Regions from separate parts of the Homo sapiens genome. Here regions 2, 3 and 4 are each reported to be linked to region 1. Evidence: microRNA targets listed by miRTarBase, many of them from high-throughput screens and not tested one by one. Region 1 holds a microRNA gene; each other region holds the end of a gene's coding sequence. Distances are from middle to middle.

What was found. The annotated mature microRNA hsa-miR-3156-5p reads AAAGAUCUGGAAGUGGGAGACA and lies in region 1 at 2,495-2,516, opposite strand. An mRNA with a match to its seed (bases 2 to 7 or 8) in the 3' UTR can be bound and repressed. Matches are read on the target gene's strand: a 7mer-m8 pairs with bases 2 to 8, a 7mer-A1 pairs with bases 2 to 7 and ends in A, and an 8mer does both.
Region 2: the mRNA of HNRNPA2B1 is a reported target of hsa-miR-3156-5p. Seed matches in the 3' UTR shown: 7mer-m8 at 6,200-6,206 and 8mer at 5,965-5,972.
Region 3: miRTarBase lists HOXD9 as a target of hsa-miR-3156-5p. The part of its 3' UTR that is shown has no 7-base or 8-base seed match.
Region 4: the mRNA of TXNL1 is a reported target of hsa-miR-3156-5p. Seed matches in the 3' UTR shown: 7mer-A1 at 4,612-4,618 and 7mer-A1 at 283-289.

The regions. Positions count from the first base shown.
Region 1 is chr18:14,824,900-14,832,689 of GRCh38, reverse strand. MIR3156-2 (microRNA 3156-2) reads right to left here and starts at 2,524; the gene lies at 2,448-2,524. It overlaps ANKRD30B (ankyrin repeat domain 30B), which reads right to left. Exons shown (of 44, transcript NM_001367607.2): 33 at 4,382-4,412; 34 at 1,235-1,307.
Region 2 is chr7:26,185,447-26,193,236 of GRCh38, forward strand. It overlaps HNRNPA2B1 (heterogeneous nuclear ribonucleoprotein A2/B1), which reads right to left. Exons shown (of 11, transcript NM_002137.4): 10 at 7,049-7,131; 11 at 4,481-6,892. The coding sequence ends at 7,070. It overlaps NFE2L3 (NFE2 like bZIP transcription factor 3), which reads left to right. Exons shown (of 4, transcript NM_004289.7): 4 at 1-1,691. The coding sequence ends at 337. Among named protein-coding and RNA genes, the nearest start is that of HNRNPA2B1, 11 kb to the right of the region's middle. RefSeq lists enhancers at 125-174, 195-424, 2,825-3,349.
Region 3 is chr2:176,123,399-176,131,188 of GRCh38, reverse strand. HOXD9 (homeobox D9) reads right to left here. Exons shown (of 2, transcript NM_014213.4): 1 at 7,604-7,790; 2 at 6,252-7,255. The coding sequence ends at 7,014. HOXD8 (homeobox D8) reads right to left here and starts at 1,484. Exons shown (of 2, transcript NM_019558.4): 1 at 246-1,484. The coding sequence starts at 822. LOC100129455 (a long non-coding RNA gene) reads left to right here and starts at 661. Exons shown (of 1, transcript NR_187615.1): 1 at 661-3,364.
Region 4 is chr18:56,596,934-56,604,723 of GRCh38, forward strand. It overlaps TXNL1 (thioredoxin like 1), which reads right to left. Exons shown (of 8, transcript NM_004786.3): 8 at 276-6,123. The coding sequence ends at 6,094. Among named protein-coding and RNA genes, the nearest start is that of TXNL1, 38 kb to the right of the region's middle.

The DNA.
Region 1 (7,790 bases):
ATGCATATTATCTTACTTGTAACATTCCATTACATAAAAATTCATTTGCTTATTTATTCACATTGAAAACCGCTTAAAATGCTTTTTACAGGCAAGACTGTATTCTGGGTACACTAGGATGCACACAAGTATGTTTTCTAACCTGCAGTATCTCATAGTGATGCAAGAGCTCCAAAACGATTATTTAAATAACTAAATACAAAATCTTCTGAAATTTAAAATTTTCAAATGTGATCAAAGATCTTTGAACAATATGTTTAAAAACTGCAATTTAAAAACTCTGAAATTAAAATCTTACCATATGCTTATTAAGAGTCTCTGCTTCCAGAACTGGTTTTTTACTTGGGGTGAAACCTGCATTCTTCATTTAGTTGAAGAATTTAAAGTATACTTTTAATGAAATAACTTAGAAAACATCCTCACATGCCTTAATAATACAGATTCTGAGAAAGAGAATTTACATTTCTAAATTTCTAAATTATATTCAAAATTAGAGATAAGGTCTCGCTATGTGCCCACACTGGTCTCAAACTCTTGGGCTCAAGCAATCCTCCTGCATCAGCCTCCTTGGTAGCTGGAACTACAGGCATGCACCATCATGCCCAAATAAATTTTCACAATTTCTAATATTATTTTGGTGTTTAATTAAAGAACCAAGAAGAGAAACTGATAAAAAGCTCTCTCCTAAAAACTACATGATATCAAAATAATATGCGCCAAAAAAACCTATATGCTATGTGGCACAGTTTCAGAACTGAAGTTTATCAGACAGATTCCTTGATTACTGTAATAAGTAACTGGATCCATTAAAGATAATTTTAAGGATGAGGTGTTTTTAAAGTTACAATAGAATAATTTTAAAAGTCACAGTAAGTTTACTTATGCAAAGAAACCTTTACCAGATTTTATATATTCTCTATTGTGGAAAAGTTTTTTCTAATATAATGTTCCTGTCACTATGTATTTCTACAGCCCATTCCGGTTTTTGGCCCTCACACCCTCAGAGTATTTACCAATCATTTGTTATTTACTGAAGTAAAACAAACAAACAAAAAAACAAAAAAAAAACTGTTTAAATCAACTACTCATATTTCTATAAAATGTTTTTATGTGACCAACTTTATATTACCAACATGAAATTATGATACATACACCACTGCTAAACATGAAAAGTAAATACTATACAGAATTAGATTCCAACTGAGAAAATCAATTTAACAAGAGACTATTTTACCTTGGTAGTAAGATTAAAGTCTTCCTCAACTTTTGTAGACTGTGAATTTTCAGTAGTCGGTTTGCCAAAAAGACTAGAGAAAAAAGATAAAACAAAAATGAGCAAATTCATATATTTAAAAAGAAAACCTGCCAGTTCATATCTTAGTGCTCACTCCAAAAAATGAGAACAAAAAACAAAATCTGGGGAAAGATCAGTCCTCAATATATTAAATCATGTTTCTTGGCATAATTAAAATATGCCATCTGGTTTTCGTTTTTTTTTTTTTTTTTTTCCGAGACGGAGTCTCGCTCTGTCGCCCAGACTGGAGTGAGATGGCTCGATTTCTGCTCACTGCAAGCTCTGCCTCCCGGGGTTCATGCCATTCTCCTGCCTCAGCCTCCCCAGTAGCTGGGGCTGGAGCCCGCCACTGCGCCCGGCTAATTTTTTGTATTTTTAGTAGAGACGGGGTTTCACCGTGTTAGCCAGGATGGTTTCCATCTCCTGACCTCGTGATCTGCCCGCCTCGGCCTCCCAAAGTGCTGGGATTACAGGCGTGAGCCACCGCGCCCGGCCCCTCTGTTTTTAAAAAAGATTGCATTTACCTATTTTTGACTCTATCTCTCCAACCTGTAACATCCAATGAACACTCACTCTTAGTTCCATAAAAAATAGTGACCGCCAATATAATTGGCATACCCTGAGTATAATTAGTCCTCACAAGCTGTCCTCTATGATGAACTGAAAATGTACTTAATGGCTGACATAACTTTTGATATCTAAACTGGAACAAACTTGATAACCTAAAATGAGGAAGAAAGGTACAGTTACCTTGTCCCTTATCCATTGTCTATCTCTGATTCAAAGACTAATCTGTGTCACTGGAAAATGACATTCTTTGTTTTTCAGCATAAAAACCACTTAAAAAGGCCTTGTTGCTTCCCTTCACCCTAAAACGCTACAAGAGAGTGCCCTGAAATATCTGAAATGTTGAAAAGCTGAACCTACAAATGTCAAAATACAAATCTATATTTGTTATTGGGAATATTTTTCTCACAAAAATTGAAACATTAAAAGTAAGAAAGTCTAACTACTTATTTTATACTTTTCCTTCCTTGTTCAGGTCTACATAAACTAGCAAAGCCTTAAAAATCTTCGTAGGTACTTATACCCAAGGAGAGAGACTGCTAGAAAAACTGAGTCCTGATAGTTGGATTTCTCTAAGTACTATATATACAGAGAGAAAGATCTGGAAGTGGGAGCCACTATATATAGTGAAAGTGTCTCCCACTTCCAGATCTTTCTTCTGCAGAGCTTCATGGCAGTCTCCAACCTTTAAATATTTAGCTCATCTAAGCACAGATTACTGAAAAGATAAACTCAATGACCAACCAATAAGCTCTGTATTTACCTGTTCCTGAAAAACAACTAAACAGAGTCTCAGTCATGTTACCAAAAACCCAACTGAAGCTCCATGACTAATTTGACAGCCAATCTTCCCCCTGCTTTACATGTACATGGGTAGGACATCAGAGGCTTGGAAAAAGAGGCAAACGGGAGGGGACACCTGCCTTAGGCCACAGATCTATGTAATTCAGCAACCTTCAATCCCCTAGCACTGAAGGGGCTCTAAGCCACTCCTGTGAGATTTGGGGTGAAAGAACAGAATAGGACATTTCTATTCTGATTGTGGAGACTTTTCTGAGTTGGTCTTTTTTTCTAAATCTTTCAATAGAAATCTTGAAGTTTGCCCATTCCTCCAATTAAACAAGCAAAAAAAGCAGCAATCTATTCAGGACTTCTTTGAACCCTATTTTAGTATGCCTTTCTAGATAACTCCCAATGTCTTCTGTGTTTTTGGTCCTCTAATTTATCTTCATCAAACTTGTCATAAGATCCAATATTCTGATCTCTTTGGTAAAACCCTTACTCCTACCAATCCTGGGATTGTTTCTCTTCAAACTTGGCCTTTCCCTGATAATTCCATTCTTATCTACTTCTACTGGGTTTTCCAGCTAATTCCATTATTCTTTTCCATTTGTTTAATCAGATCCATCCCCTTTTCCTTTCTATTATTCAAACACTCACTTACATGATGATATAAAAACAAGAGTAATGGGCTTTGAAATGAGTTTAAATATTACTTCTGCTACCTCTTATATTTAAATAAGTCATTTTGAGTTTCAGATTCTCCATGTGAACAACAATTTTTCCAGGATATTAAATAGAGTTTAAAATATGAAAGTATTTTGATTAGTCTCCAAGAGTCCTTAAAATCCTAAAATTCCATGTGCTTTAATTTTAGCTATAGAAAAATGGGGCTGGCAGAAAGAAATAAAATAATAGAAGAAAAGAACACCAAGGAAAGCAGAGAAGAAAGTAATCAGGAAAAGATTATAAATAAGTCATGAAAGAAGAGAAAAGACTCTAGAAAAGAAAATGAAGAGTGCATGCAACTAAGAGGGGACTGCTTTGAAGAAGAACTAAACTAAGAAGTCAGTAAATAGAGAATTCTATAAGAAATAGCCTCTAAATATGATTAACATATCTATATGTAGATATTCTCCACTAAGAGTGAAATAATCCATCTATAGGATTTACCTGGTATTGCATATGAAACAAAAGCCTATGTCTTGTGGCCACAGCTAAGTAAGATCTGCTCTAAAAACGTTGGTGATAAAAACAAGGTACTGGTTACCACTTTAACGGTTAAACATGTTAGAACAAAGTCTTGGATTAATCAATGTTCTATGGGAAATCTCTAAAAAGAGTTAACATATAACAAAATGTGACTTTGTGAATTGATCCCATCTGGTCCTGTACCTTGATCCTAGTGATCCACAGGTCTCCATCAATCTATGCCAAGGGGGAAGGGAAGGGATTAGGGAGCAAGGTAAGCAGATGGCAAACTCAAGGGTCAGCTACTTTTTAGCTATGACATCATAGGCCAATTAATCAACCTCTCTGAATCACATTTGCCTGATTAATACAAAGTAGGTGACAGTAGCACAGATGCTTTGCAAAGCTGTGTGATGACTATGTGAGATGATAAATATTAAGCACATAATACGTTGTCTAGCCCAGAGTAGAATACTCAGCAGATAGTGATTTCTTTTCTCTATATTTTCTGAGTTAACATATACGTTTTAAAAAACCGCAAAGTCTTACCTGAATGTGGACTCTACAGAACTCACATCCTCTATTAAAGAAAAGAGTAAAATACATTAAATCAACAAATATAAATAAAAAATACAGAATATTAAAAACATAAGAGGGCACGATGGCACATGCCTGTAATCCCAGCTACTTGGGAAGGTGAGGCAGGAGGATCATCTGAGAGGTCCAGGAGTCTGAAAGCAGCCTGGGAGACATTGCAAGACTTCAACTTAACTTAAAAGAATCACGCACACTTTCATGCATGATTAAGGTCTTGGTTTAAAAAGCATAATACTCTGACACTTTGTTACAAAGACTCAGATGATTTGTTACAAAGCATTCTTTTGGGACCATACGTTGAGACTATAGTAAAATTATTATTAAGTATACTATTGGTAGGAAATTAATGCATTAAGAATGCTTATTTCCCCTCCTTTGTAGTTCTCAAATGCAAGGAAAAATGGAATTTATCACAATTTGATCTCTGCAAGTGAACTACAGTGTACAATAGTCATCATCCAAACAGAACCCTATAAGACTGACAGAAAACTGTATTATTAGCAGAATTAGTATAAGTGGACAGTGTCAAACTTAGAAAGTATAATTTCTAGACAAATGGACTAGAAGCAGTTAGAACAGAGTATACAGTAGTCTCTTATCTGCTGTATGTGTAGAAAGAAACACACACAACATGATTTCCCTCTGCTCTCATACCAAAATCATTAAAACAGAAGACATCTGCGACCAAATGTGTGGAGGATTTTCTCCACCAACAAATAAGCAATGAATTCTGTAGAAAAAAACAGCTGACTGTCCTCTATTTAATTCCAACCCTGTCTATCTAGAAATAGTCTCAGATCCCACAGACTGAGTGCTCAGTCTCACAAGACTTCCCTCACACACCAGTTGCAAATCTGGGTCTCTTTAATTTCTGTGATTTCAGTTACTCATGGTCAATGATAGTCCAAAAATATTAAATGTGGAATTCCAGAAATATACAAGTCATAAGTCCTAAATAATGTGTCATTCTAAGGAGTACAATGAAATATTAAGGCATCCTGTTCCATCTCATCCAGGTCATGAATCATCCCTTTGTATATGCTATCTGCCCATTAGTCATCAAAATGGTCTGTTCCTGTATCCCAACCATCAACATTATCATGGCTCAATGATCCAGGGTCACATGAAGCAGATGATCCTCCTTCTGATGTGTGGTCAGACAGCAAGAAATAATTAGTAGCCTAACACCACATGACAACTCCTACCTCATTCATCTGACTTCATCTCATCACATAGGCATTATATCATCTCACAGTCATCACAAGAAAAAGAAGGGCGAGTACAATACAAGACACTTTGAGGGACCATATTCACCTAACTTTGAGATTACAATATATTGTTATTGTTATATTTTATTATGAGTTCCTGTTAATCTCTCACTGTGCCTAATTTATGAATTAAACTTTATCACAAATATGCACTTATAGAAGAAAAAAAGCATGGATGTATAGGGTTCCATACTATCCACAGTTTCAGACATTCAATGGGTGTCTTAGAAAATACACGCCTTGGATAAGGATGAATTACTGTACTTGTGTGTGTGTGTGTGTGTGTGTGTGTGTGTGTGAGAGAGAGAGAGAGAGGGGGAGAGAGAGAGAGAGAGAAACAATACAGATCTCCACTCTCCACAAGAAGCAGATAAAAAAGACAACACTTTTCCTCACACATGACCCTTAGGTTTTGACAATTCTGGAAAAATGCTGGCATGTGTACTCCCCAGTCTAGACAATTTCCTAGACCCTGTGTATATATGCTGCTTTAGTTGCAAAAAGTTAGGTAGGATCTTGGGAGATTTCCTCTTGGACTCCAGAAATATTAACTACATCAACATTATACCTAACAACTCTAAAATAATTCTTTTGAACAGATTACCACTGTAGAACTTGTAAGTTAAATCCAATTGACTTTTCAGTTATAATCTTACTGCTGAAATTCTCATATTTAAAAGAAATTTGCAACATCACTTTCTCTGACTCCTCTCCTACTTTTCATTAGCCACTGCTCAGTCTCCTTTACCAAGTCCTGTGACTCTGTGAAATGTTGATACTCCCAGGATTTTGTCAATGGCTTTCTTCTTATTCTACATCTTCTGCATCATGGATAAGCTCAGTGAGATCTATGGCTTTGCTTAATAATTATAATAAAATTATTCTAAGCCTGCATCTCCAACCAGAGTTCTATCTCCAGCTAGAAATACGTATAAACCAATTACCTACTGAAAATATCCCACATGAATGTTTCATTGAACTCAATATGTAAAGAAAACGGTTGGTCTGTCCCATGACTGTTTGCACTTTTCTGTTGACCTGACAATTTCTTACTCCTTCCCCATGAGCATTCCCCATGTGGAAACTTATGAATGACCTGAAATTTCTTCTCTCCCCTAGCTTTTTCAAATCAATAATCACTAAATCATATTAACTGTACCTCTTTTCTGCATTTGCTTTATCTTTCCATTGCCACTGGAAATACAAACTTATTTATTTTATATTTATATTTCCTAGTTAGACATGGCCTCTTAACTGATGGCTTTCACAGGAAAAAAGCAACCCTACCTGTAGGGGATCGGACAAAGTGGTTAAAAAAATTATAAAGATAGTTATAGGAAATAGACACAAACCTTCTTGGAAGGCCGGGGGGTTGCATAGCTTCAGTAAATGATTTGGCTGAAAACAGCCTAATCTTCTTTACTTTGAGTTGGTAGCAATAGAGCAAATATCTAGGGAATGTGGAGGAGTTTATCTAAATACCTTGTTTACTCACGTGGTCCTAAGACAAAAGTTTGATCATCCGAGGGTGCATGATTGCTTTGTACTGGGGGTTGGCAATCTTAATTACCCTCTAGTGATGTTTACTCAACAGTTTTGTCATTTAATCTGTACTAAATAAATGTGAACTTTGCAGGCTTATCGAGGCCAAGAATGCAGACTCAGGCAGCAGAACCCCTTAGCTGCACTGACAGGCAAAAAATCTGTTTCAGTATATGTCTCTCATCTGTCACTTAGGTCAGTGTCCATGGGATGGACCCGGCAGGTGGCAAGACAAACTATGCAAAAGGATCGTGATGGAACCCTCAAATATGAAGGTGAAAAGAACTGCACAGGCAGCGAGTAAGTCATTGGTGCCTGCTCAGGATTTCCAGGTTCGGGGGAAATTGTTCAGGCGAGGGTTTCATCATGGGACAACAATTATCAGCACAAAAGAAACAGTATATGAAAGTATTGAAAAAGCTGCTTAAAGCTAGTGGAGACTTGGTATCGTGGTCCCTCAATTAAGGGACACAATGCAAACTGTTGTATTCCACAACCCATGGTTATGGAATTCCAAATTCAGCTTACCAAATGGATTTTAGACAAAGTTT
Region 2 (7,790 bases), not on the chromosome of region 1:
ACGAAGAGGGAAAAATAAAGTTGCTGCGCAGAACTGTCGTAAACGCAAATTGGACATAATTTTGAATTTAGAAGATGATGTATGTAACTTGCAAGCAAAGAAGGAAACTCTTAAGAGAGAGCAAGCACAATGTAACAAAGCTATTAACATAATGAAACAGAAACTGCATGACCTTTATCATGATATTTTTAGTAGATTAAGAGATGACCAAGGTAGGCCAGTCAATCCCAACCACTATGCTCTCCAGTGTACCCATGATGGAAGTATCTTGATAGTACCCAAAGAACTGGTGGCCTCAGGCCACAAAAAGGAAACCCAAAAGGGAAAGAGAAAGTGAGAAGAAACTGAAGATGGACTCTATTATGTGAAGTAGTAATGTTCAGAAACTGATTATTTGGATCAGAAACCATTGAAACTGCTTCAAGAATTGTATCTTTAAGTACTGCTACTTGAATAACTCAGTTAACGCTGTTTTGAAGCTTACATGGACAAATGTTTAGGACTTCAAGATCACACTTGTGGGCAATCTGGGGGAGCCACAACTTTTCATGAAGTGCATTGTATACAAAATTCATAGTTATGTCCAAAGAATAGGTTAACATGAAAACCCAGTAAGACTTTCCATCTTGGCAGCCATCCTTTTTAAGAGTAAGTTGGTTACTTCAAAAAGAGCAAACACTGGGGATCAAATTATTTTAAGAGGTATTTCAGTTTTAAATGCAAAATAGCCTTATTTTCATTTAGTTTGTTAGCACTATAGTGAGCTTTTCAAACACTATTTTAATCTTTATATTTAACTTATAAATTTTGCTTTCTATGGAAATAAATTTTGTATTTGTATTAAAAATTAACTTTTCCCTTTTATACAGAATCTGAACCAAATTTACCTTACTTTCCTTCCAAAATATCCACATTCAGGAATATAGGTGAATAACAAATAAGGCAGCATAGCAAACTGCTCAGACTCAAGCCAAATTGAGGTCAACATAGTATGCCAAATCCATAGTAAGGCAAATCCACCCCCCTACCCCAATACTTAACACACAGAATACTATGTGATATAGAATGCACTGAAGACCTACGGTCACTGGTAGTTTGAGCCACAGGCCTTCCTCATGTAACCAGAGACAGAATGGGCTACTTGCAAAAACGTAACTCCTTGTGTGTATATTAAATCCATAAAATCTCTGGCAGTAAAGCCAGCCTGAAGGGATGGCCTCACCATCTTAGAATACTGAGATCTCACCAGAACACTGTAAGCCATATAAACAGTAGGGAAAGAGTCAGCAACAGTGAAACCATCTGTTTAAAATGGGCAAAAGCGATTAAGGGAAAAAAAACAGGTGAATTTGAAAATAAACCAGGGTAAGGTAAATTCTAGAAATAATAGCATTTGAAATGAAAACCTCACTTAAGTTCACTAGAACAGTAAACAGGAGATTGCTGAATTTTTTGAAGACAGCAATGACCTCACCTAGATGACTCAAGTTTGGGGAACATCAAGATTTTGACGGGTACTATAATGCTTAATATGTCCAAATTTTCAAAATGAAGTTTCTCAGATATTATTTCTGCCATAGGAGCTACAGTGTAGAGTATCACATAAGTATCTTGGGCTAGAGAAATGCAGTTTATATATACCGTTGGATTTTTATAATAAAGTTTCCCAAGACCTGTTATTTTGCCAGAAATGCTTCTAGTATGCTTCTAGATAAAATTGCCCCTTCAGTGACTCATGGTGTTCAAATGATCATTTTAGTCTGTTGCTTTTTACAAGGGAGTATTTCAAATGTCTTAAGCTTTTGATAATTATAATTTAAGAACACACATAAAACATTTCAGTAGGAAATCCTACTAAGTACACTCAAAAGAGTGCCTGCTTATCAGATAGCATTCTTTTCAAACCTCTAAAATAAAAGACAGTGGAGAGCAGAATCGGTAATCATGGTGACTCTTGTTACCCATGCTGAAGTGCAGTGGCCCCAATAAAAGATCCAGCCTCAAACTCCTGGACTGCCTCAGCCTCCCGAGCTGCTCAGATTATGGACCGCCATGCCTGGCCTGAAGTTTAAACTCTAAAAACCCTTAAATATAGCACACACAGATCTAGTAACTGCAAACTGAATATATTTAAAGATGGTAGTGTCTGTACTGAACTTTATTCCCCATACATAATGCAGCATACCATTTACCTAGCTTCTACCTTGGATTAAATATTGGGTAACCTAGACAACTCAAGTGTATGAGATGTGCTTAGACCACGTGCAAATACACGTTTCATACAAGGGGGCTAGAGCATCCACATTTTGGTATTGTGGAGGTTCCTGAAACTGATGGGCCCCTCTCCCATCAAGGGACTTTTAATCGGCGCATTAAGCAGCCAGCGTCACAAGCTCTAATTGGCTATGGGCTGGCTTCCTGACATAACCCTGCCTCCATCTTAACATGCTGGATTCAAGGTATATAAACTGCAACTGCTTTTCTGACAGTCCAGTTTTAGAGGCAGAAGGGAATTCCACATTCGGCTTCCAGTGCAAACCAACTAGATTACAAAGCCAATGCCCGAAAGCTGACCATTGCCTAGGACCCTCCACATTACCTACCTAGTTGAGCAGTCTTGATTGCATCATCTAACGTCTTAATCAGAATGAGGAAGACAAGAACAAAGACAACCCAAGTGGGTTGGACATCTCCTTTTCCAATTAAAACTATCACTTGAGCATCTTCACAAGTGTGATCAGATTTTAGGCCAATTGTACGGCAACTCCAAGCAAAAAAAGACCTAGATTTCTAGTGGTCCCCTGGTCTCAAGGTAGGCTTCGGTTCAGCAGAGCTTCAGAACCAGTATACAGGGTTTTGTGTGGTAATATTAACGTCTTTTAAACGCACTCAAGTAGCTAAATCATTCCCCATCTCAGTCTCTGAACGATTTGTTCTCTGTTAAGTCCATGCAACTCAACTGATTTGTTACCAATTCCCCTCCACTACCCCAAAACAAGCCAGTGTTAGTGCATTACTAAATAGTGGAAATGTCAAAAATTATGTAGGGCCTGTCAACATCTCAGTATATTAGTTCCAAACCTTAAAGAGAGCGAATTTATGTAACATGCAGTCCAGGTGTCCTGACAGATGTTTTCCACTTTTCAACCATCAGTGACAAACTGAGACTTGTTGCCTTACATTGTTAGCTCCCAATGCCTAACTAGTATTTATTAGGTCAAGCAATTTGGCATCTACCAAATTGGGCTACATGGAAAAGCTTACACATACAGAAATCTGGTTTCACACTAGTGAATAAACTGAGTAAGGGCACCCCCTTGAGTGTGACAGCTGGCATCTGAGAGTTCCCAATGCTCCCTGCCTGCTTGGTAATTGTACCAGGGAAAAGAACCCTCCCACCACATTCTGTGACCATAAAGGATGCAAGATAGCACGACTACTTCGTAGAGCGTGTTCATTTTACAGCTTTTCTTGCTCAAATCACTCACCGAGGGAAGATGACAACCAGGATTAACTTTAAAGCTGTTAGTATGCCACTCTGGATATTAAAAAAATTCTCCAATCCTAGTTTTCTGTGATTGGAACCTTGAGCTTTACCCAGAATCAGTTAAGTTGCTCCCAATTGCTGACCCATAGATGCTGGTTTGTTTCTCTGAACTGCTCTTAAGTATTGAGGTAAGTTGTTACACAGCAACAATATAAAGCCTTGGCCAAAAAGCAGCCTTTCTTCATTTAGGGCACTGTCTCAAAGCTACACAAGAACTACCTTAAACTTCAATTTCTACAAGAGAAACAGCTCAACACAACATATACACACAGGAAATAAGCCTATGTTGAATATCCAACATTACCCCCATGCTTCAGTAAACCCTCCTTCAATCAGTTCATTTCAGTCTATTGTGCAATTACCTAATTCTCCCCTATTTGTGTGATATTCCCTTGACCTTGGCTGGATAGGAGTTGGTATTTTGAGGTTATGCATATCAACCTGATGTATTTCAAAGTTCAACGTCTTTGTACATCCACACATTTTTAAACCTTCAAAATTTTCTTAAAGTTGGGATATTTGTACGTCTTTAATTGACGAACTCAGCTATTTCAAACAGAAAGCTGCTTTCTATGTGTTACCTGCTGTTAAATTTGACTTACCTGTTAGATACCTCACATTATCAAAACCAAAACAAATTATCATAGAAACAAATTAACCTGGTCTTTTTGGTTTTCTTAATTCAGATAAATGTCCAAATAAACACATTTAAAAAGCAACACTGATATTCATTTACTCAGTGTAAACCACAATAAAACTAATTGACATTTGACAATCTAGCACATATTGTAAACCTCAGTGCTTCTGCAAAGCCACTTAATCTGGACCACTCCAGCCGGTTAACCTTTAAAATCCATGATTTTCAAAATGCCACCAGTATTGCTAAACGTAAAAGTAAAGCCAGAAACTTTAGGAGTACTCAAACGCTGAATATACAGTGCATAATGAACAGCATTTTATTGGGGACAGCCAATAATGTCCACAATGCTCTTCTCATTTACCTGTTAATATTAAAATATGCATAGCTTTGTGAAACTGCTTTTAAAAATTTAGGGGATGGTGATCTTTTAGACAACCAAATATTTATAGAACAAGATTCACACATTTTATGTGTAAACATTACACCAAGTATTTGGATACAAAAAGTATTTATTTTATAAACTTTATATTTAAAATAGAATTGTAATCTGTCTACTCACAAAACCTAATTTAAAACATGATACATTTATCTCTCTAGCCAATTTGATGTTACTGTTTTACAAACAACACTCATTTTGTAATTGTTTTATATCAAGAACCTCAACTAAATGTTTGTTTTATCAGAAAACATTTCCCTTTTATTTTAAAGAGTGCTTTTTAAATGAAGGCACCAACAAGAACTACTTTCAGATGGTACAGAATTTCTTATTTCTTGAAGACTCTGTGGTTGACCACTTCTTCATTAGTTACCTGCAGCAAGACACCTTCCTGCCAAAGGAAAAAAAAAGTATCTGAAGAAGTTTATCATGTTTGTCCAAAAGAACCTAAACAACTTCAGTGGTGGTCTTAGGATCAAAGAAGACTCATTGGTGTATAGAGTAAGCCCTGAGTATCACATTCCTGTAAAGGCAATAAAGCCGGGCAATCAAACTGATCATATCTAAGGAATGAATTTCAACAGCCAACCTACAACTTTCTCTTCAGGGTAAGACACTGAACTAGAATTACCACATTTAACCCACCTATTTAGTACTGGATACATACCAGGCTTCATAATGCAGACAAGACACTTCACTCAAGTATGAACTACTATCTGAAAATAGATTCAACCATTTTTGCCCTACCTTCTTTCAGTCTCATCCTGATAAGCATGTACAGTTACAACCATAAATACAACAAATGTCTTTAATAAAAACCCCTAGTTCACTCAAAATGTTTGATCCAAGAAATGTGAATACACAAGGGTGTAACGATGGGAAATCTCATGATTTATTGAACTTGCAGCCTAACTTTTACCTACCATTTTACTACCAACACCACTGAAGGAACCAAGAAAAGCTTTATTAATGATCACTTGGCTTGCCTCAGCTGTTGAAATGAAGCACTTTACAGTCTTTGTGGCAGCAGAATATACTTGTCCATGGTTCATATCAATGCTAAAATTCCGGCAGGGAAAAAAATGATATGTTAAGCACCCAAATCTTCACATGGAGGGGGAGGGGGTGGGAAAAGAAGGAAAAAAAGGGAAAAACAACCAAAATAATTTAAGTAAATGACAGATTGGAAAACAGGGTTTATAAAAATTATTCTCTTGAGTTTATAAATTGTTAAACTCAATTTATAGCTATGTTAAACTACGTAAGAACCACTATACTGAAAGACCATTTAAGAGTATTAGTTTATCTTTTAGGGAGGAAAATTAAGAAAGGAAAAGTAAATAAGATCTTACCTAAAGAAGTTTAACTGAAGCTTAGAACTATTTTGCTCTACACCCTCAGCTTTCGTTGGCATCCTTATAAACTACTGTAGTTAAAGTTTTGTAGAAACAGCACAGTTTTTTAAGACTGGCTGAACTTAGTAGCCGTCAAGAGTTCTCTTGTACTAGACCTGTGTCCCTGAAGAGTACCTCGCTGGGGTTATTTCCTTTCCTTGCATTGAAGAAGCAGCATCTAAAAGATCTAAAAAGGTGTTTCTCCTTGCAGAGATATCCCTTAAGTTATCTACATAATTTAATCCTGATGAATTGCAGACAACACACTTACATCTGACCAGCATTTATCTTATACAAATATAACAACAGCTTTGCAACGGACCTTAATTATACTACCCACTCCTTAACTTATTTAAAATAAAAAGTCTATAATTACACAATTTCCTTTAGAATTATTTTATTAAATCATAAATGTACAACAGCTTCTTAACTCTACACACGCACTTAAATTTTTTTAAAGGAAAAACGTTATGTCTTATTACACCATGATCCTGGCTAATAGCTTTTCAAAACTTTGAGAAAAATCTTAAAAAAGGTTTCACATGTCACCTGAAACTTACAAATTTAACATTATCAAAGAAGGAATGCTTCTACACTCTTACAAAGACCACTAGAAAGAAACAACAATTAAAAAGCTAAGAAACTGTCTCAAAGGCATTTTTTTTTACAATCCTTCCTCCACAGTAAGGTAATGTTATTAAATAATCCAATCCATTCACAAAATGGCTCTCTGCATCTGCTCTGGTGTCTTCTGCCATATCACTGCATATTTATGCATGACTGAGATAAGAGTTTCCTTAACATTGTTATTTCGATAACCTGAAGCTGTTCTGTTACCTCTGGGCTCTCATCCTCTCCTATTTATACAGTGAAGCCTGTTTCAACAGAAGTAAAGAGTAAAAAAAAAATAGGTTATGAAATTATCCATCTAACCAGATTTTAAGGAAAGATAACATGATCCTAAAAAGCTTTTACTCCTGCAGCTATGTCTCCCAAGATAATAATAATTGTAAAACTCAAAAGCTACTTACCCATGGCAAATAGGAAGAAGCTCAGTATCGGCTCCTCCCACCATAACCCCCACTTCCTCCACTGCCTCCTGGACCATAGTTTCCTATAATTGTTGGAACAGCAAGAGAAAACAAACTTACTTTGATTTCCCATGATCAGCCTAACACTACAGTTGATTCTATTTTATATCCATCCAGTCTTTTAAACAAGCAGATCCTAATCCTTTGCAGCCAGTTAGCAGAATTACTCAGGAGATAAATTACTCGGGTTCATAGACATTTTTATTTCGTGGCTGACCCTATTCTTTTAAATAAAGGGTCCTTTCACCCTCTCATCCTCATTTGGACTGAGTAAGGGATTTTTTTAAAAGTACATCAAGCCCAAGACAAAGCTAGTTTACTCCTAGCTAAAAACCTCAAAAATAAGCTAAGCAATGGTTTGAATCATGGTTTAAGGATTTAACTTCAAAGACCCTCATTCCAATGTATACCACTTGCAATGTGGGTTGCAACTGTATTTAGCTGTTTATGAGTCCCCACCAGAAATTAAACTACTGAACACCCCCACCTCCAACATCCCTAATCCCAATTTGATGTCATAACTGCTTGCTGAGTACTTCTGTGGAGATTTATGCAAAATTTCTTTATTTTCACTAAGACCGTACATGGAGCACTGCCCACAGTACAAACTACTTAGTATGTTATCTTCCCTTTAAGTCACAAAAGGCTAATCCTTTAATCACAAAAATCTGAATAACCTCAA
Region 3 (7,790 bases), not on the chromosome of region 1:
GATATATATATATAGGGTGTGCAGGCAAGAGGAGCAGAGAGGTCTTCACAATTATTCTGTCCCCATCATCTTTACATGGTTCCTACTTTTTTAAAAAAAGTCTGTATTACTTTATGAATAAGAGCCACTGTGGCTACACAAGAAGGAAAAGGAGGGGGAGAGGGAACGGGAGTTTTAAAGCCAGAACGTGAGATGAAAGCAGATTTCTCCCCCTCTCCCTTCTTAAAAAAAAAATGCATCCCAACCTTGTGGTCTCATCCACGGAAACATTTGAGAAGGAGACGAGCTCTGATTTAAGTGGTCTGGGTCCTCGCCAATATTACCACTGGACGATTTACAGTCAGGATATTGTACCAGCTCGGCCTCTTGCTGGGTCGTAAAAATCGGCTGTCTCTGTAAGTTATCGTATCCGTAAAACTTCGCGGGCTCCCCGTGACAGGCAATCCCGCCGCAGGGGGGAGGTGGCGGCGGAGGCGGAGGATGCGGAGGAGGAGGGGGGGCGGCCTGGTAGGCAGCGGCCGGGCTGCCCCCGCCGGGGTGGAAGTACTCCTGGCCCCGGCCTTCCCTACCGCCGCACCCAGTCCCGGAGGGCGGCGGGGACGGGTGCGGGTGCGCGTGCGCCTGCGGGGGCGCGTGCGGGAAGCCGGCGGCGCTGTTGCCATAGAGCTGCAGGGCTGCTGCGGCGGCGGCGTGACGGCCGCCGACCTCGGGCGCGAAGTGACAGTCGTAGTAAGTGGGATTGATGGCCTCGCCCGCCGCCGCCGCCGCCGCAGCCGCCGCCTTGTACTTGGAGTACAGCGGGTTCACGAAGTACGAACTCATTGGGGCGTCAGCGGCGGCGGCCCCGGGCGGGCGGGCGGCGCTAAGCAGCCAGAGAGCGAGCCTCGACTCGGCCGCACTGCCGCGGGGGCCTGTGGGGCGGCTGCTCTCGCCGCCGGGACCGCCGGGCTACGTCGCTGCTGCCGCCCGCCCGCGCTCGCGCGTCGCTTCTGAGGCCAGGCAGCCGCGGGCGCTCAGCTACTGGGCGCTCATGCCCGGCTCTTGCGCCCGCCGCCTCGGCTTCGCGCCGCCTCCCTCGCGGGTCGCGGGGCCTCGCCCAGCCCCCGCGCGCCGCCGCCCTCCCGGCCTTTCCCGGCGCGCCCCGGCTCGGCCGCAATATAATCGCCGACGCCCCAGGCGACCTGCCCCGCTGCCTCCACTGTTTCCTCTCAGGCACCAGTGACTGAGCGCACCCGGACAAGAAAAAAGTGCGCTCGGCCCACGGGGACACTCTGGCCTCGGTTTACAAACCCCGGCTCTGGAGGGAAAAGAAAAAAAACACCCTCTGCCCGCCGCCACCTCTTACCGCGCCCCCCCCGCGCCCCCCTCCCGCCAATCTCGCCCCCGCCGCCGAGGCTGCCGACCCGGTGCGCACCGGCGAGGCATTTTCGCACCACAGCACTGCACGGAAAGTCAGCGTGACGGGGACGAGGAGCCCCGCGGAGGGATCCGCGCGCAGTTCAGTCGCTACGGCCGACGGACGGAGCGCCGCGCCCGGCCCGAGATGCCTCCGCCGGCCTTAAAGGGGGCCCATAAAGACGCACTGCCAAGGGCTCCGTGTGCCCCGGGGCCGCGGGAATGCGGATCGCAGCCGGCAGGGAGGGGCCGCGGCGGAGCCTTAGACTTGGGGGAGCCAAGGAGGCCACTCCCAGGAGGCTGCGGAGCAAATGACTGCCTCCCCGAGCCCCTGGCTGCAAAAGCAGAGGTTGCCCGTGGCTTTTGCAGCTCTGGACACGCGGGTGCAGCCCAGGGAACGTGGACAAGAGGTGTTGACGGACCGGACCGTGCATTTGAGTTGGGGCATATCGAAGTGGTTTAATTAAAAGCCGCGAGTGTGGCCCCAGATCCTGGCGTTATCAAAGCAAATCAAAGCCTTTCTTTTCCAGCCGAGCGGGCCCTGTGGAAATGAGATGTACATTTACCCTTGACGCACCGCAAGCCTGGCCGAGGCTCTCAGGTTAATTGATATTTAATGGAAATCATGCCCATGAATATAGTTTCCATCATTTCACCCTTGATAGACGTCAGCCCTGGGCGCAGGGGGAGGCTGAAGAATGCAGGAGGGGGCATTAGGCTTGCTGAGAGAGTAAATAGAAGAGCGGACAGAAACGTTCTGAGGCGGGAAAAAGGGCTCGCGCTGGGGAGGGTGACATTTCCTCGGGCAGGACGCGGCTCCCGGGTCTCAGCCCCGGCGCGCAGCGAACCAGGGCCGGCTGCGGTTCCCGGAGGAGTGCGGAGGGCAGACGACCGCAAGTTCCCCCCAGGAGCCTCCCAGCCGGCGTTCAGATCGCGCCGGTTCCAGGCAGCTGCAGGCGGCCCATCTTATGCTAACGATCCTACTTCCTCCGCCAAGCCTGTGAAATTACTGCCGAGAGAGCGCGCAGGCCTCAAAGTTACGAATTTTTCCCAAAGCAGAGAAAGAGAAGGCTCAGCCTAGTTTGTGAGCAGAGATGAAGAAAAGTTGCCCGAGTCATGTGGCCCAGTCGAGTGTGAATCGACAAAATATTCCCGATTTTAGCAGCTCTCTCCAAAGCTGTCTGGCTTTACCCTACCAACCGCCTCCCCACACACTTCCTTTCCCTCTCTGCTCCCGTTTCAATGTCCAATAAATGCAATGGTTCTCTGTTGTGTGTGTGTGTTTTCCCCTCTCCTGCTCGGCCTTTCTCGTGGGCTCTTTGGGTGACTGAGCCCCGTTTCCTTCGGGATAGGTACAATGTCGTGAGGGCGCCAGGCCCACAGCCTTGGAAATAGACCTCCAAGGCGCCCCTGCTCAAGCTAAACGCACCACGCCGGCTTTCCACACCAAATGCAAATTTCCGAAAACCCCAGACGGCCTCAGAGATGCTGCAGGCTGGCGAGCGATTTCAGCTACCCCTAGCTCCTTGTGGGTTGGCCCAGCCTGCGAGCGCGATCCTGACTTGTGTCCGGGTGGACTGAAATATCATTTTTACAAATGGAGAAAATGAGATCGAGATGGACAGACATAGCAAGGTGATAATGTCCGACTCAATTATTTCTACTGGGAATGACTGAAAGGTAAAGGAATCGTTAATGAATCTGGAGATGACAGAGGCATGCTTTATTTAATTTTTAAATTAGTAAGGAGTGCAGACTTGGGGTGGTGGAGAGCAAGGGTTTTTTTGTTGTTGTTGCTGTTTGTTTTTGTGGGGTTTTTTTTCTGCTGGTTATTGCCAAGTATAATGACTTTCTTTAAATCCGAAGGCGAACGAATTGATTCTGACAATTAAGGATTTGTCCTTCAATCTTGCAAATGCCCAATTAAAAGATTATTATTGTCAATAAAGCCTTGGAGCTACCTTTGTAATTGTGCCCCTTTTTTTCAGTTTGGCGTGTGTGTGTGTGTGTGTGTGTGTGTGTGTGTGTGTTTGAACCCTGGATAAATGAGTGGATTTTGGAATGGAATGGGGGGGGGGAAAATGAAAGAGCCTGGATCTCAACAATACCAGGCATCTTGTAGAACTGTGTGATTCCTCGGGGGAATAAAAGAAAAATGAACACTAGAAAATTCATTTATAGACATTCAGGCCAAATTTAGAAAACGTTACAACATTTCCTCTTGGGACAAAACAGTTTTTAACATTTATTTAAGCATTCCGTTTATAATATGAGTAGAAAAAGAGCGCGATTAACTTAGTAAGAAAAGATCTATGCTTTTTACAGCTTTCTGTTTTGATATAATACATTAATTTATCATGTTTTATAGTTTCAGCTGTGCCACAGTCCAAAGTTTCTGAAGCCATGATCGAGCCAAAATTTTATGCCCAGCAAACACAGAAATTAATAGTACACCTTGTTTATTTTTGGTTAAAATTATCCTAATTTCGGATTAAAAATAAGATTGTTAATATTTTTAATCAAAACCTTTCTCCGCCGCAATTCCAGCTTTACGAGATCAGAAAGTGGAGCAACAGCGCTCTCTAGTGGCCAAATGCCACCTCCAGTCCACTGAATTTAATTTTTATTCATCTCAAACCAATTCTAATCTCGTTCTTCAATTTGGGGCTTGGACTGCTGACACTAATAATGCTTCATTCCTGTGACTGTCAACAAGTCAAGAGCAGCAAGCAGGAGCTCCTGTATGCCTAGGATATTCTAATCAGTGCTCCCAACAGCTTCCAGTAGTGTCTTTTCCAAAAGCTTCCAGCCCTTCTTTTGCCAGACACCAAAAGTCCCCATGCTGTAACCGCCCAGCTGTGCCTTTTAAAACAATTATAGGACAGGCTAGATTTAACAAAACCTACAACTTTCTAAATATCAACTGCCAAGAGGCTTTTTATTTTCCAGAGGAACCAGACACTTTGGCAACCAAGAAATTACAGAAATCAAGTATTGTTATGTTTTTGTTTTTCTCTTACAGCTGTTACTTTTAGGATTAAATCATGAATATTTGCTACTTTAACACTGTAACTTTAATGCTTTGGGGCCCACTTAGGTGGCCGATTTTGGGGGGAATCGAAGCCAAATCAAAAGCTTTTTGCTGGATCTCTGAGTGGCTGTCTGGAAAGTCCCTTTGCGCTTCTGTTTGTTGGAATTTCTATGGACAATAAATGGGATTTTAAAAATATATATCAAAAGTCATTGAACTAAGCATTCCACTAGAATTTTTTTTAAAAGCAATGACTATTCAATTGGCTTAAGTGTTTCCTGTTAGGTTAATCTTTTTACTCATCTTCAAAACTGCTTTCCTCCAGTTTAGGTGTAACAATTGTATTTTTTTATAAGTGAATAGACATAAATTTCAACAACATTTTGCTTCAAAGTTTGGAGTGGAGGGCCAGAGATTCTTGTGAATAGGCATCTAACTTCATCTTTTCCCGCGAACCACACTTCTGGGAGACTCTCACCTGGGTAAATGACCTAAGATCACTAACCACCCTATCCCCAGATAACAGGCCAATTTTTTTGTTTGTTTGTTTCTAAAGAACCAGCTAAACCGTGGTCATAGTCAAAATATTGTAAAATGCCATCTCCTTAGGCTACTTCCATTACCTGGTTCATTTCAAAAATCAGAAATTCATTCACCTCTTCCTTCCTACCTCTTTCATGTTTACTTCCTAGGTGCTCACACCTCACCTGGGGGCTCCCATGCCCCTGCCTTCTTGGTCCAACGCAGTCTTGTTTATATTTTATTGTCTAGATTTTAAGACCCAGTTTTGTCTGCATTTTTCCTTTTCTCCCACAAACACAAACATCAAAATGAGATGGTTTCAAAGCAAAGCACTGGGCCTGTCGTAAACTCATTACCTCCAGACGTCTGGCCCGCTAGATGGCTTTATGACACCTCGGCTCTTCCTGTTTTCAAAGAGCCCTAGGTACCCAGCTGGCCACAGTGGCAGGGGTGCGCAGCACCTTCTGCCGGATCTGGGCCTTCCTTGGCTTTCCCTCCCAGCCCCCCTATGCTTTTTCTTCGCGTCCCCTCTTTCATTGGGATCCCCCAAGATCTCTGCCACCGCCCCCACCTTCCACCCAGCTCAGGCCACTTGGCAGTGCTGCCTCTTTGGCCTGCAAATGCTGTGCTCACCCAAACCCTCACTTACAATGACCTTCATTTTAGCCCCTGAATGCAGCCCTCAGAGGGCCAAGCTGGGGGCTAAACATACACAGAAGCTGGGTGGGGGGAAGGGGGCGGTGAAATGGAGGTGGCTGGGGAGGAGAGCCTTGACCATTTTGATCGCTAAGGTCACTTTGGGGCTTTGGTGGGGAGGAGCAGAAGCTCACAGCCTGACCAGCTGGGACCTCCCGGAGCCAGCTAGCCCCACCGAGCTGGGACAGTTGCTCCAGAGTGTAGAGTTGGCCTTTCCCTTGTTTGGAGAGGGGTTTGGCATCTGGGGCTTCAGGAGCCCAGGGAAGGTTAGGGTGCTGTGTACCCAAGCCCCAGCCTGAAAGTGCCTGGCTTCTGGGGCCTGCTGGCTCTTCTGGGCGCTTCTGCAAGGCTAACACTGGGCCCAAGCACAGAGTTCGTGGAGGACCTTGAACCAGGCTTGGGGAGGCACCAATGTCCCCCCACAGGGTCTGTGCTGCTGCATCTGCCTACACAAAGGGATGTGAGGCAGAGAAGGCAGAGACACATCAGAGAGATCTGTCAGGTGGAAGGGCCCTGAATTTTTAACAATGTCTCACTCCCAGGGGTAGAGGAGAAATATCCTGAGTGTGATATTTTGCAGAGAGGCAGAGAAAGCAGGCACACAATGTTTAGGGCCAGCGTCTGGGCTCCATTTGATCAGGTCAGCATTTATTAGTAGGAAGCAGTAACATTTACAACTGGTCCTCGGGCAGGAACCGGGAGGGCCACCACCCGCGGCCGCCCACGCGAGCCCAGCCTTCAGGGGAGAGAGCAGCGCGTCCAATGCACTGAGGACAAACCCCAACCCGCCCGAGGCCCTGGGCTCCTCTAAGCCTCACTGGAGATCTCCACCGAGGTCCCGCGTGCTCCCTGAGGAAAGGGGGCTTTCGCAACTGGTGGGCAACCCCGCCGGGCTTCACCGTGGGCTAGCAGCCGGGGTGTCCGCACTGTTGTCGCTCTGCCTTCATTCTTGGAATTGGGGCGCACTTGGCCCCTGTTTGGGCAGTGCTGGGGGTGAGGGGACTAAACTACAGCACTTTTCAGAAACATGGGGGACATTTACACAAGAGAGGGCTCCCCAAGCCAGCTTGCACTCACAAAATATAGCATTTCTTAAGGAACCAATGGAGCAGGAAAGAGAGGGAGTGGGATAGGGCGAAACCCCAAAGCCACTTGGTTTTTCCAACACGTAAACGAGCAAATACAGAGTCCCCCAAATACCTCAGAGACCAACCACACAGTCACTTCTATCTAAAAAGAAAAAAAAAAAGAAGAAGAAGTCCAAGTCGCTGGAGAGTTTCTGGAAATCAAGCACCAAACACCCACAAAGGAAAACAGCAACAACAACAAATCCGCTGCCCTTGAGCGCTCCCGCCAGCACCGCGCCGGGTCAGTCTCCTTTGGGGCATTTCTCCTTGCTCATCTTTTTCATTTTCATCCTACGGTTCTGAAACCAGATTTTGACCTGTCTCTCTGTTAGGTTGAGAATCCTGGCCACCTCGTAGCGCCGGTCCCGGGTGAGGTACATGTTGAAGAGGAATTCTTTCTCCAGCTCAAGCGTCTGGTATTTGGTGTAGGGACAGCGCTTTTTCCGGGTGGAGCGAGCGTGGATCCAGTTCGCGGCGGGGTTGTCTACAAAGAGGGAGGTTTGGAGACGGGGAGAGAGGAGAGGAGGGGAGGCAGGGAGAGACCACAGGGTGGGGAAGAGAGGTCGTTAAATTAATTTCACCAAGGATGGTCGCTTTTCACAACTTGTGGGGAATTATCATAAAAAGCCTTAATGCTCGCGCTCTGTTTACCGTACTAACTGAGCGCCCAGGGTAGGTGGTTATGGGAAGCTCTTTTTATGGATGCATGTTGTTCGCCTAGGCTTGGGTAGGCGTCTAGACGTTTTTATAGGTTAGTAAAACTATCAGTTTTGCACATTCGAGCCTTACAGGTTTCAGCAATAAATCAGGGGGCAATTTCTTTTGCACTTACTTGGGTCAAGTTGCTGCTGCTGCGGCTGCGAATGCTGCTTCTCCTCCTCCTTCAGCGAACAGCCTGGGATCGGGTGGTCGCTGCAAGCTGAGGGCTCCGACGAGCCGCCCGTCCCAGTCGCGGCCCCGATCCCTGCCCCAGGCCCGGTTCCCCCCGTCGCCGCTGCCGCCTTCTCCTGCAGGAACGA
Region 4 (7,790 bases), 42 Mb from region 1:
ACTTTGTCACAGGGAGATTACAGGGATCTAATGAAGGAGTTCCTTTTTACTGGAAACCCCAGAAGAGCAGGTATTAACAATTAATATATTTGATAATGCCCCCCAAAATTAGAACCCTTATTACTAAGGCAACTCAATGACCCATTCAGGACTCTAACAGGAATCATCTTTGTGATGTGAAATTAGAAACTTTTAAGAGAACAAAAGCAATCAAGAAAAACAGTACTAGAATGACAGATAGGACAAAATTTATAAACAAAATACAAGAGAAAAAGCACCTGATAAGATCCTTTAATGACAACTTCAAAGCAGTGTTTCATATTCTCTTACAAAATAGTGCCATCCATCTCCAAGTTTTGCCAAGTGTCATGTAAAACTGTGTTCAATGGTAGACTATAAAAGCATCTACATTTCTTTGCCAGAGGGTTTTGGAATAATTATCTGCTGATGCTTCAACTGAAAGTTTATTAATATGATCAATGATTCCTATAATTAAGCACTAGAAAGACTGTTTCCACAATTTAATGGATTAAACAACTGGACATCCCAGCTAATTTCAATATCACATTTGAAGATGGTGACTGCTCCCTCTTGGATTCATTAACACTACTTTATTACCACCTCCTGTTTTTCCTCCCTTTCCTGTTTACTACTCTACCTTCCAGGTTCCTCTTTTCCCAATTCTTTAATATTTCTTAGGATTCCCTAACATTTGCTCCTTAGTTTCATTCTCTCCCTTTATATTCTAAAAATTCCCATTCATATACATATTTCAGTTTTCATCATCTAAACAACTCCTAGTTCCTTGCTTCTAGCTCTAAGCTCTAAAATCACATTCCTGGCTTTTTACTTACTAGACATCGCCACCCAAATACCAAAAATGCAATTTAAGGCAATGTACCCAAAACCATATTCATCTTCCCCTCTGAACGTTCTGCTTCTCCTAAGAGCTACTTCTATATTCAATTGTAAAAGTGAGAACCTTGTGAGACATCACAGACTTCTCTATGCTCGCTCCTCCCATAAATTAAGGAGAAAGTTTGATCTCTTTCACATGGCAAGAGGAGCTTCACCTTACCGTCTCTACTTGCTCTTTCAGCTTCTCCTTCACTTCCCTAGAATGTCTCTTACACTTAACTCCCACTCTATGAACACACTATGCACTTTTCCTTTACTTCAGCTAAATTATCTTCCTTACCTTCCTCAACTGCATATTCCTACTTTATCTCTGACTCAACCCAAGCATCTCCCCTTGGACCCTGAGAATTTTTTCAACATTGTATTTAATGATAGAAACCAAATAAACTGGCTTAATACTAGAGACAAAATACTTGTATTACAGCTCACAATCTAGTAGTCCAAATAAGACTACAGATCATTACAAGTAGCTTGATAAGTATCCGGATGAAATAATGGCAAGGTGTCATAGCAGCTGAGGAGGCGTGCACAATTGTTATGATTATTCCCGGTATCAGTTTTCCTTGGACTGAGCCTTGTAGATAAGTAGGAATTGGTCAGATGGAAAAGTTAGGTCAGAGGAAGGCATGCGATATTAGGGTACGTTCTGCTACCTGGTAATACAGCACAGCACACTGGAGAAATGAGGGGCATGGGGAGGCTAGAGGAGGAGAGATTACATTACAAAGACCCCATAAAGAAAAGAGAACCAGCGGCCATGTGGGGGATACATGAGAGAGGCCAGAGCAGAAACAAAGAGACAATTAGGAGGCACTGCAGTATGCCAAGCAAGTAATGATGGCCTAAAAAGCAGTGACAGCTGAGAGCAGGATACAGAAGATACTTATCCTTGTTCCAGATACAAAGTAAGGCGCATCTTCAGAACAAGTCTAAGAGATAGATGTTCCTATTTTTACACAAGAAGAAATTTGAGCTCTGAAGGATGTTACTTGCTCAAGATGACACAGCTAACAAGTGGAAGAGCAGGGATTCAAACTTCAGAGATTTTGCTCCTAGGTAGTATGATGAGCCAGTATCTCCAAATGCGTGTCCAATTATAAACCAACAGATCATGTTTTCACAATTAATTCTGGTCTGTTCAACTTAGAAATAATTCCAAAATAAAATTCCTCTTCCCATAGAGAAGCATAGCAAGCACGAAGGAAAAATACTCTAGCAGTTTTAACATTGCATATCCTTAAGATTTTAATATTCCAAGCTGTGTACAATTTTAGTACATTCAAATTCTAAAGGTTATCTCTTTATCTTATAGTTCTCTAATTACACATTCTCCAACTAATAATTTTACATGGACCACAAAGTTTAAAAGCGATCTTATTAGCCTACAAATCTCCACTGTCCTCTTATTCCTATAGTGCTGAGCATGTTAAAAAAAAAAAAAAACCTTATTGATCAAAAATAAAACTTGAATTTTGAAACATGCTTAAAATGACATCAGTAGTCTTCCTTAAGAAGTATAGGCTTAACTGGGGAATAGTCAATATTTTAAAATTTATTTACTATATGCATGTTATATATACTTGCTTTATGTGTATTATAAAGCATAATCTATATTTACAAAACTGTAAAATACACACCTCTAATAATGAGTTTTAAAGCTAAATGAGCAAAATATTCCTCTAGTTTTTCTTTAGCAGTTCTGTGAATGGATTTTTTTTTTTTTTCTTTTGAGACAGTCTCACTCTGTTGCCCGGGCTAGTGTGCAGTCATGCGATCTTGGCTCACTGCAACCTCCGCCTCCCGGGTTCAAGCGATTCTACTGCCTCAGCCTCCCAAGTAGCTGGGTGTGGCACCTGCCACCATGCCTGGCTAATTTTTTGTATTTTTAGTAGAGACAGGGTTTCTCCATGTTAGCCAGGCTGGTCTCAAACTCCTGACCTCAAGTGATCCAGCCGCCTCGGCCTCCCAAAATGCTGGGATTACAGGCATGAGCCACTGTTCCCAGCTGGATTTCTTACTCTAAGTTACTTATCTTAAAAAAAAAATAGTCTAAGATTACAAATTATCAGTTCCAGAAGAGATATACCTAACACAAAAATTAACCTACTAAATTGAACTATATGAGTATCAATACAAGCAACATGAGTAAGCCTTAAATTTCATGTTTTTAAAGCTTACAAAGGGTGTAACTAATTTATTCAACTCCAACACTTTATTCTTATTACAGAATCAAAGCTTTTAGACATTAAGAGGAACAAGGGAGGATCTGAACTATTTTAGGTTTAAAAGCCCATGATCAGGGATATTAATTGCAGCCATAAATAAACTGCTGAGGCCAAATAAACAACTGCATTCCTATAATCGCTGCCAAAAACACTGCATACATCCTCAAACATTGAGACAAAGGATGGCAGACAGGTTTCAACTCTAATTGTTAAGTGGCTGCCTCCAACAGAATATTGAGACTGGGGAACAATGTGGGGCAGGTTTCAACTCTAATTGTTACGTGGCTGCCTCCAACAGAATATTGAGACTGGGGAACAAAGTGGGGCAGGTTTCAACTCTAATTGTTACGTGGCTGCCTCCAACAGAATATTGAGACTGGGGAACAATGTGGGGCAGGTTTCAACTCTAATTGTTACGTGGCTGCCTCCAACAGAATATTGAGACTGGGGAACAACGTGGGGCAGGTTTCAACTCTAATTGTTATGTGGCTGCCTCCAACAGTATATTGAGACTGGGGAACAACGTGGGGCAGGTTTCAACTCTAATTGTTACGTGGCTGCCTCCAACAGTATATTGAGACTGGGGAACAACGTGGGGCAGGTTTCAACTCTAATTGTTACGTGGCTGCCTCCAACAGAATATTGAGACTGGGGAACAACGTGGGGCTTGATGTCAAAGAGAACTCAGAAGGATTATAAAAGCCTGTCGTGGGCACAAGAATGTGGTACCTTGTGCTACTCTTGGCTTCAGCATTAAGCTGACAAAGACTTCCTACTGCAATACCTGACTTTCGTTTCTATTATGAACACGATATTTCACTGTTGTTTCTCATCAAAAGCACCTGATGTCAATGTATCAAAATACAGAGATCATGAAATTCTTTTTTGCTATGTCCGACAAAATGAACAAGAAACTGAATACCAGTTTTCTAGATGCACTAATAAATAACTTCAGTTAAAATAACTAGAGTTACATTTTTTCAAATGCTCTTATTCATCTGGAAAATTCAGTGTTATATATAAATGTTACATATACATATGTGTGTATATATATATACTGTTTTAGGAGAAAACAGCATTTCAGTTTGATATTTTAAATGCCAATTATGCACATTTATAATAGTAAGATTTCCCATTAAGTGAAACGTTATAGTTACCTATAAACGTTCATTTTTCACTATTTACAATTTGAATTATGTAATACTTGCATACTGCAACTAATTGTTATAGAAGAGTCACATAGACAATATAAATCTGATGTCCAATCCTTTACAAATACGAAATTTGTTTCACTGGGTTTTCAAACTATCAAGTATAAATAGGAAAAGGTCAGCAATACTTAGGATGAGGCACTTTAACAATTACTCAGAAAGGTTAAGTGTACAAAACTGTAAACCAAAACCCTGCATATTAATCTTATCCTTAATTTCAGATGTGATTAATCTGAGATGGTCTATTTAAGGAGTGTTAAGATCATCACAGACCAGTTAATGTGCCCATATACAAATGAACTAAACTATCTAATGACACTTGGGTTTCAGAAAGGGACTCTTTCAACACTAAAACTTCTGTAGAATTTTTTCATAAACAAGTATAAACACACTGCTCTCACAAAGGCAAATGGTATCTCTACCATATTCCTAGACAAGAATGCCCTCAAATGTTTAACTGAATCACAATTTTACAGTCTTATGTACTCTTTAAAAATAGTTTTCAAAATACTCAGAAATTTTAAAATTAAAACTACCAATACTTTTTAGATTACAATTTTAAGATAAAAAAGGTAACGAATAGGTATTTTACCAGCCTTTTGTGAAAGACCTTTTAAACATTTCTATTTGAGCACCTCATTTTCAACCTTAAATCATGTTCTCTGTATATTTACACTGCACGTTTTGGTAGTTCAGGTAATAAATACTTGATTAAGGGTAATAATTCCCTTTTTTTTTTGGAGACGGAGTTTTGCTCTTGTCGCTCAGGCTGGGGCGCAATGGCGCAATCTCAGCTCACTGCAACCTCTGCCTCCCGGGTTCAGCCGATTCTTCTGTCTCAGCCTCCCAAGTAGCTGGGATTACAGACACCCGCCACCATGCCTGGCTAATTTTTGTATTTTTAGTAGAGACGAGGTTTCACCATGTTGGCCAAGCTGGACTCGAACTCCTGACCTCTGGTGATTCGCCCGCCTTGGCCTCCCAAAGTACTGGGATTACAGACATTAGCCACCACACCTGGCCAATTCCTGTTTTCTGAATTCACTATGCTGTATTTTTTCCCCAACTGTCTGATTTCCACATTCTTCTATTAGTTAAAAAAAAAAAAAAAAAAAAAAAGGCTGACTCAAATTTTAAAGTTTACCAGAAGAGATTAAAATCTTGATATATACCAAGAAAGAATCTGTGGACCCATTAGCTAAGTTTTAGGTAAGAGTAGCTAAATCTCATTAAACCTGTTTATTTCTTCTAATTTATAATTTGAGTAATTTCCATAGCTCAGATATACAAATGTCCTTTAATAAAAATGCAGTAATAATTTAACATGGTTAGCTGTTCCAGGTTCACTTATCAAAATAACTTGCCATGAATGTGTACACATGTACTTCTTAATTCCCTAGAACAGTTTCTCCTTTTCTAAAGAAACTGGCTTTCAATCAATATACTACCAGACACTTAAGTCTCTACTAAAATCAGAAGTTAACCAGTTTTCAAATACATGGAAAGAGAAAATACTGATTTAGAAAGACAAAAATTAAGCTTGGCAAAAGTGGTGACTTTTATTTACAATTGCATGTGTCAAGATTACAATGGAAACACTAGTGATACCATCTGAACAAAAGCAATGATTTATTGGTAATGGCAATGAATGAAACATTGACAGTCTCTGGCGAGAATCAAGCAATTATCCAGGAGCTGTAGATCTGATTGCAATATGGTTGTCCAGTGTCTTTTGTACCTTAGTGGCTTTCTCCTTTTTTGCCAACTACCTAGAAAAACAAAAATAAGTTTATATGTACATCCTATTGATTTTAAATATGAGTTATTAAAAATACTAATAATCAGTTTAAAACCTTGGTATTAATTTTTATCCTTGGATCTTTTCTGGCATGCAATGTATTTTCACTGTTGAAGCAAACTGTGACCTCCCCTCCAATCCCAGCCACAAGGAATTAAAAATAAAACACATGCAGGCTATTTTTGGTTTCACACAGTTTTTTTTTTTTTTTTAAATAGCAATTTTTAAAAACAAGGTTGAAAGTTTAGAGAAGTTAATTTAAAAAATGATGCTATATGAGTAAAACATATTTGACATACTATTTTTAGATAGTTAGAAATCAAATGTCGATCACAAAAGAATCTGGAATTAGAAGCGTATGTTAAACTCATGTCCTTCATGCCCAATATAGCAAATTTCCAGACTTTCCCCCTCAATACACTGACATGCAATGAAAACAGATTAAAAGTGACTAATTTTTTCTGGTTTAAGAAAAAGATCCTGGTTACTTTAAGAGTACTATTAAAAATGAAATGAATAAACCTTGTTTCTGTCAATGATTAGAAAAATCCTCTACTGGAGGATTATAAAAAACATTCTGGTTGCTATATATGTGGCAGCATAAAAATGTGAAGAATAAAAATTTGTTCTCTACCAACAAATCTAGAAAACAAATTCTCTGCAGGAGAGTTTGAAAACTATGTTCTAATTGAGAAATGTACTGACAACTTACAGTTTATCATTAGATAATGTATTCTTAGGGCAAAAATGCCTTGAAAGAAACCTACTTGCAAAATACTGAATGTATGTTTGTGTAGAAAGATTTCTGTGTACATTTATATATTTAATTTTCGTATTTTACATTGATTCTATTCTAAATGGCAGTATCTATACCAGCAAAACTCATAAAGGTCATCAGTACATGTCTGGTCTAAAATATAACATAGCTGGGTCAACATCATTCATGAGAGACCTGAAAGCTTTCCACTGAAATCCCAATCACACAATCCTAGAAATGTTTTTCCCACCCTAAGAAAACTCACTTCTAGTACCTTAAAAGAACTCCCCTTTGGTCCAAAGACACCATGTTAGAAAGCTCACAAGGTAGCAAGATGATAAAAAGGCAGTTTCATATAAAAGAATGTGGATAAGAGTAAGAAATTCAGGTTTTAAGAGCCACTAGAAGGGGAACTGGCATTATCTCTATCACAAGTAAATTTTGTGCTGATAAACACTGAGAGCATTATTGATCATTGTATTACTTGGGAAACACAAAACACAAAGCTATTAGATTAAGCAAAAGAAAACAAAAACAAATATTAAAAATTAAACTTCTAGCAGATGTGATACAGAAGACACAAATCTGCATACTGTTTCACAGGTTGATAACTCTCAACTTGCCAATGTGTATTTTCTGTAAAAAAGAAGAAATTCAACATTCCAACATGGATTGTCATCCCAAACGTAAAGCTCTTTTATTCATTCTTAAGTCTTTATATTACACCTCAGACAAACCAAAATTTAGGTACATAAAAATTAGGTGTAAAAAATATTTATTCAGTAAAGAGTCCATTGATCTTCTATATTAATATGTTAACCCAACCTAATATTCAGTCCATAAGTCCTTCAACTGGTTTTGAGCTCACTTGGGCAAAAGCA